2 separate regions of the Homo sapiens genome follow, and region 1 is linked to region 2. The links come from fine-mapping of genetic effects on gene expression. A gene starts in region 2. The other region holds a variant in brackets. All regions are shown on one strand. Distances are between the middles of the regions.

What was found.
Region 1: its variant is fine-mapped to the expression of INPP5K in whole blood (TOPMed, PIP above 0.99).

The regions. Positions count from the first base shown.
Region 1 is chr17:1,493,462-1,496,245 of GRCh38, forward strand. It overlaps INPP5K (inositol polyphosphate-5-phosphatase K), which reads right to left. Exons shown (of 12, transcript NM_016532.4): 11 at 2,599-2,703; 12 at 1,116-2,418. The coding sequence ends at 2,362. It overlaps LOC105371483 (a long non-coding RNA gene), which reads left to right. Exons shown (of 2, transcript XR_934145.4): 1 at 1-164; 2 at 489-1,233. Among named protein-coding and RNA genes, the nearest start is that of MYO1C, 2.2 kb to the left of the region's middle. The variant G/A (reference allele first, on the strand shown) is at 1,515.
Region 2 is chr17:1,514,976-1,517,759 of GRCh38, forward strand. INPP5K (inositol polyphosphate-5-phosphatase K) reads right to left here and starts at 1,637. Exons shown (of 12, transcript NM_016532.4): 1 at 1,481-1,637. The coding sequence starts at 1,524. It overlaps PITPNA-AS1 (PITPNA antisense RNA 1), which reads left to right and starts at 1,944. Exons shown (of 2, transcript NR_028514.1): 1 at 1,944-2,118; 2 at 2,743-2,784. PITPNA (phosphatidylinositol transfer protein alpha) reads right to left here. Exons shown (of 12, transcript NM_006224.4): 12 at 2,743-2,784. RefSeq lists a silencer at 1,723-2,022.

The DNA of each region.
Region 1 (2,784 bases), 22 kb before region 2:
CCGGCACCCTTCTCTCTCCCCACAGCTTCCCCCGCCCCGGAAAAGCTAGCAAGCCTTCCTTCCTTCCTCCGGGAAGCACATCTATCCAGAGCAGGCTCATCCCCGGCGGCCACACAATGGCCCTTATCAGCCGTGGAGCCAGGCGTAGACCCAGTGCACACCAGGTCTCACTTATTTCCTGTTTCCACCCAGTGGGTCGGGGTGGACCCAGAACGGCCATATCCTGACTGGGGCCCAGAGGACGGAGAGCACCCCCCATTCCCCTTTCCGCCTCTCAATCACTGCTGGGCTCACCCCTCCCACACAGGAGGCTGGGTGTGTGGCGACCTCAGTTCACCACGGGGGAGGTGAGCATGTGGGGGGACCCCTGGGGTCAAGCCCCGGGGCCGCATTAATCAGAACGGGGAGGCGGGTCTAGTGCGATACACTTTCTGCAATTGTTCTCCCACAGTAATCTTGAGAATAGGGACATCATCTGTATTTTACAGACTACTGAGACCGCTCTGCGGGTGGGTTCAGACCCCATTCCTGTTTCTGGTCCTGTGGGAAACCACAGGTGCCTGGAACTTTGAAGAGACTGTACCACTTCTCTGAGCCTTGGCTTTCCCATCTGCCCAATGAAGGGTGCCATGCAGTAACCCTCGTGATGGCTGTGCATGTGAGAAGGAACAGGTGGGCAAGTGAGGGCTTTGGAGGTCCCTAGGTATATGTGTTGGGGGCAGGGATAGGTTACCATGGGGGAAAACTCAGCAAGAAGGGGCTGAGGAGAAGTGGGGCAGAAAGAGAAGATGGTGGCATTCTGGACTGGTTAACGCAGGCAGAAGGCTCAACACCAGGGTATGCAGAGCAGCGGGTCAGGAGGGATGAACAAGAGCTCATTTGACTTAACAGAGTACATTAAGCGGCCACCGGCATAGATGGCATGCTCCACCTGGTTAGGGCCCCAGAGGCTCACCATTCTAGAACCTCATCCTAGCCCCAGTCCTGGCCACTTCTGCAAATCTCAGACACAGAAGTCTAGTTGGGATCTACAGGGTCCCTGTTCCTGGAATCTACAGCTAGTCCCAGGCCCATCACCGTACCCCCACCCCCCAATCATCAGTCACACGCAAGTGTAAAAGCCACGCTAATAATTACCCCTGCACAATGTAACAGTCACAAAACAGCCAGCCATGGCCTGCTGGAAGCCAGGGGACAATTCTTCATACACAGGCTTGCGGGGGAGAGTATGCAACACAGAGCAACTGGAGTAACCCTCAGTCCCAGGACACAGGATGGCAGGACAAGCACTGAGCAGGCTCCCAGAGGTGTCTTCTCCTGGGAAAAGGGCTGCCGAGTGACCATGGCGGAGGCAAGTGCTGGATGTGGGGACAGGCCATGTCCCCAAAGCCCCTAGAGGGTGTTCTCTGAAGAACCCCAGGGCCAGATCCTCCAAAATGTCTTGAGCTGGTTCTCCCTTCTGCCTGCCCCCACTCTGAGGTCCCGGGGGGTCCAGGGGGGGCCCGTCGTCAATG[G/A]CTCCTGACAAGGGTGGCACAGACGCACCTCACCTGCCAAGGACCACCCTGGAAAAGTCTGTGGCCACAGCTCCTTGACCACTTGTCACCCCTTCCTCAGATGGCAGGGTGGAGGCATGGGACTCAAGCTACCAACGGAAGCGAACCTGGATCCTTCCCAGTTCTCTCTGTCAGGATCTGGAACTTCCATGCAGTCAGACTCCATGCCGTGAGTAGGGAGGAAGGTTGTGCTGGCCGAAGGACCCTCATCAACCTGCTCATAACCATGGCGTAAGAGCCTGGCTAGAGGGGCCCCTCCATTCTGCCCACTGAGTCAGACTGCTTTTGCTGAAAGCAGAAATCCCAGACCCTCTGCTCACTCCTCACGGGGACAAGCTATGAGATGCCAAGACTCCTGGAATCCAGCACTGCTTGCACCAGTCTATGTAGCCTGTACAAATGTGAGCATCTCCCCTCCCAGACAGCCTGAGGCCCAGGACGGCACGACAAGAATGCAGGCCTGTGCCAAATGGGGCATGTGCCTGGCAGGACTACTTGGGCAAGACTAGAAGAGGGGGTAGGAATCCAGAAATGAGACGCAGAACTGTCCCCAGGTCTTCACTGTTGACACACTAGCTGGTTTCACTCACATCTCAGCAACAAAAACCTGTATTTAAGCGGCTAATTCCAGAGATGAGTAGTGGAGAGAGCAAATGAGCCTGGTTAGAGCTCACTCTGGGAGGAGTATGTGGACGACACTTGGCTGTCTCTTCAGGGGGCCAGGCTGGGCCCCCAGCACTCCCGGCAGTGGAAAGGCAGAGCTGGCTGCCAGCTCTGGCCTCCGCCTGGGATTCACTCCCATCCTGGCTCAGATCTGTGGCTGTGCTTCACCCAGTGGGTCCTCCCTCAAGGAGCCAGGCGGGATCTGCAGGGATAAAGCAGGTGGTGGAAATGGAGAGCGGGTCTTCCTCCGTGCTTTCCATCACCCCCGTTCCTGCACTGCAGCGGCCCCTCATGTACCGGCTGGCTCCCAGGCCTGGGCCTCAGGGAGCCAGTGATGAGCTCAAGCCCTCACCCTTCCCCTTCCCTCACCAGCACTGCTTACCTGGAAGGGTCTGCTTATCCCCACCACAGAACGCAGACTGTTGCTGTAGTAACAGAGGAGAAACTCATCTTCAGTGGTAGGGATATTGCTGATGTCGATGTAAACCTGGAGGGGGATGGACAGGACTGGGGTCAGCTCCAGGGCTCTGGGCTCCACCCAGCTCTGAGTGACAAGTTATTCAGCACT
Region 2 (2,784 bases):
GGCTCATCGCAGCCTCCGCCTCCCAGGTTCCAGCAGTTCTCCTGCCTCAACCTCCCAAGTAGCTGGGATTACAGGTGTGTGCCACCACATCTGGCTAACTTTTGTATTTTTAGTAGAGACGGGGTTTCACCATGTTGGCCAGGCTGGTCCTGAACTCCTGATCTCTCAGGTGATCCGCCCGCCTCAGCCTCCCAAAGTGCTGGGATTACAGGCCTGAGCCACCGCGCCCGGCCAAGGAGTTTTTAAGTAACAGGTTTCTCGACATCTCTCTTAAGAGTCTATGCTCTATGTCTGCGTAGTATTCCGTGAAAAATAAAGAGTACTCTCTGGGGAAAAGTCATCAGTTGGATATTTTCCACCTCAGCTTACAAGTCTTAGGGAAGCAAGAAAACTAGATAAGGGGCCTCAATGACACTGGATCCAGTCAGAGGCTCAGGAAAGAGAGACCTACAGATGTCTTTAGTGGAACAGTCAGTCACAGCAGCTCTTCAAGAAGCCTCAGACTGTGCGGAGCACAGAGCGGGCAGGAGCTACAGACCCTGCAGAGACCAGGAACAGCCTAGCATGAGTCCTAGGCACACGATGAGGAGTACCTGCAGCAGCTGGAGATCTGGAATGGCAGAGGGTACAGGGGGATGGGAGAAAAGGGCAGTTAATGCCAAAACATCTCTCCTCCAACAGACCCCGTCCTTAGAGGTCGACGTTCTCAAAAGCACTTCAAGAAATTCTTGGCCAGTTTAAAGCAACTTCCTGTCCCTCCCTGTTAGCATAAACAACACTATACAGAAACCACCTTCCCAGGCACTCGGCCTGAGATTTTGAGCTTCATTTGTTTACGATCTCCCCCTGCTGTCCGACAGAGGCTTAAGGAACAAAGACCTTTTACTCAGAGACTTCTTTTCCCAGACTCACTCTAAGAGGATGGAGAGCAAAAGTCCGGATTTCTTGTTCCCACTCTCAAATCCGACGATTAGCAGCAAATCCAAGCATCGTGACTTAGACTAAGTGGGCGATTAGCGTTGTTCCCCGTGAAAGAGCAGGCAAGAGACCAGGCTAAGTCACTTCCCTAAAGGATCTTATCTCAATCTGATTTCGGATTCCCGGGGTTCACCATGGGATCAGGCAGACCTCCTGATGTATGTGCTGATGAAAAGTAGGAAAAAGATTTCTAACCGAGAGCCGAAGGGTGACGGCCTCGTTATGTCTTTAACCTCAAACAACCCCACACGGCTGTCCTCTCCAGAAAGCAACCGGGACACCTGCTGCGCCCCAGTGGGAACGAGCTTGGCGGCCTCGGCTTAGAGGGGGCGCGAGGCTCGGGCCCAACACAGCCCACCTGACACAGGCGTGGGAGAAGGCGAGAGCGCCTCTGAACCAAAGGCAGTCATGGAGGTCTGGTGCCTTGTCCACCCCCAGCCCGCAGCCCAAGGGGCGCCGATCCCCCCGAGCAGGCCTGCCTCTGCCGCCAGGGTGCCCTCACCTGAGCCTCCTGCCTTTCGGCCCGCTCAGCTTCCGCGAGCTCATGGCCGCCGTCGTCCCCGCGCGGTGGTCCGGCAGGTTCGCGTCTCCCGGCCAGCGGGTCCCGGCCAGAGCAGCCCTGCGGGCGGCCGGTCTCACGCGCCTAGCTGTCGCGGACTGTTTTTCTTCCGGACTCCGACCGTCCGCCCCGGCTTCCGTCAGAGACGCGCCCTCCGCGCACCCCGGGATCTGGGTGGTGCGGTTCGCAGAAGGAGGCGGGACTCTCCCACGAGCGCAAAGCTGCGAGAGGCTGAGCGAAGACGGGTTCGCGGACGTAAGAGGGGCGTGTCGGGCCTGTCATCAGCGCACGCGCAACACTGCCCCAGACGACGCGAGGTGTGCGGCCGCCACTAGACCCGGCCCAGCCCGCGCCCGCCGTCCGCAGCTCCCAGCGTGCCCCGCGCCAGGGGCCGTCTTCCGGCGGAAGTTGTCTCTTCGCCGCCGCCGCAGCCTCTGCCCCACTCGTGAGGGATCCGAGGGCTCCGTCCTTGTGCTGTCTTCGCCCCGGCTCCCAGGGGTCAAACGAGGGTCGGGGGTGGGGACACGCAGCCTAGCCACTGTCCTGCCTGGGATCCGGTCTCCCCCGCCCCCCGGCTGCAGGTAATCTCCCCATTCCTGCTACTGCGGGAGCGCCTCCGTTCTCCACGCCCACTTTCAGGCTTCTACTCCAAACTTATTGGATTACCTATTGCATATGGGACGTTTGGGGATTCCTGGACTCCTACAGAATTAGCCGTCAATAAATGAAACGTAGGCCGGGGCGCGGTGGCTCAATGCCTGTAATCCCAGCACTTTGGGAGGCCGAGGCGGGCGGCTCACTTGAGGTCAGGAGTTTAAGACCAGCCTGGCCTTAACATGGTGAAACCCCGTCTCTGCTAAAAACACAAAAGCTAGCTGGGCTTGATAGCGCGCGCCTGTTAATCCCAGCTACTCGGGAGGCTGAGGCAGGAGAATCGCCTGAACCCGGGAGGTGGAGGTTGCAGTGAGCCGAGATTGCGCCACTGCACCCCAGCCTGCGCGACAGAGCGAGACTTCGTTTCAAAAAAAAAAAATAATAATAATAATTAGCCGAGATGGGGTTTCGCCATGTTGGTCAGGCTGGTCTCGAACTCCTGACCTCAGCTGATCCACCCGCCTCGGCCTCCCAGAGTGCTGCGATTTCAGGTGTGAGCCACCGCGCCCGGCCTAAAACTACTTTAAATAAATGTTTTGCTTGTTTGGTAGGGTGGATAAAGAGGAAGATGTGAAGAGGAGGCAGACAAAAGC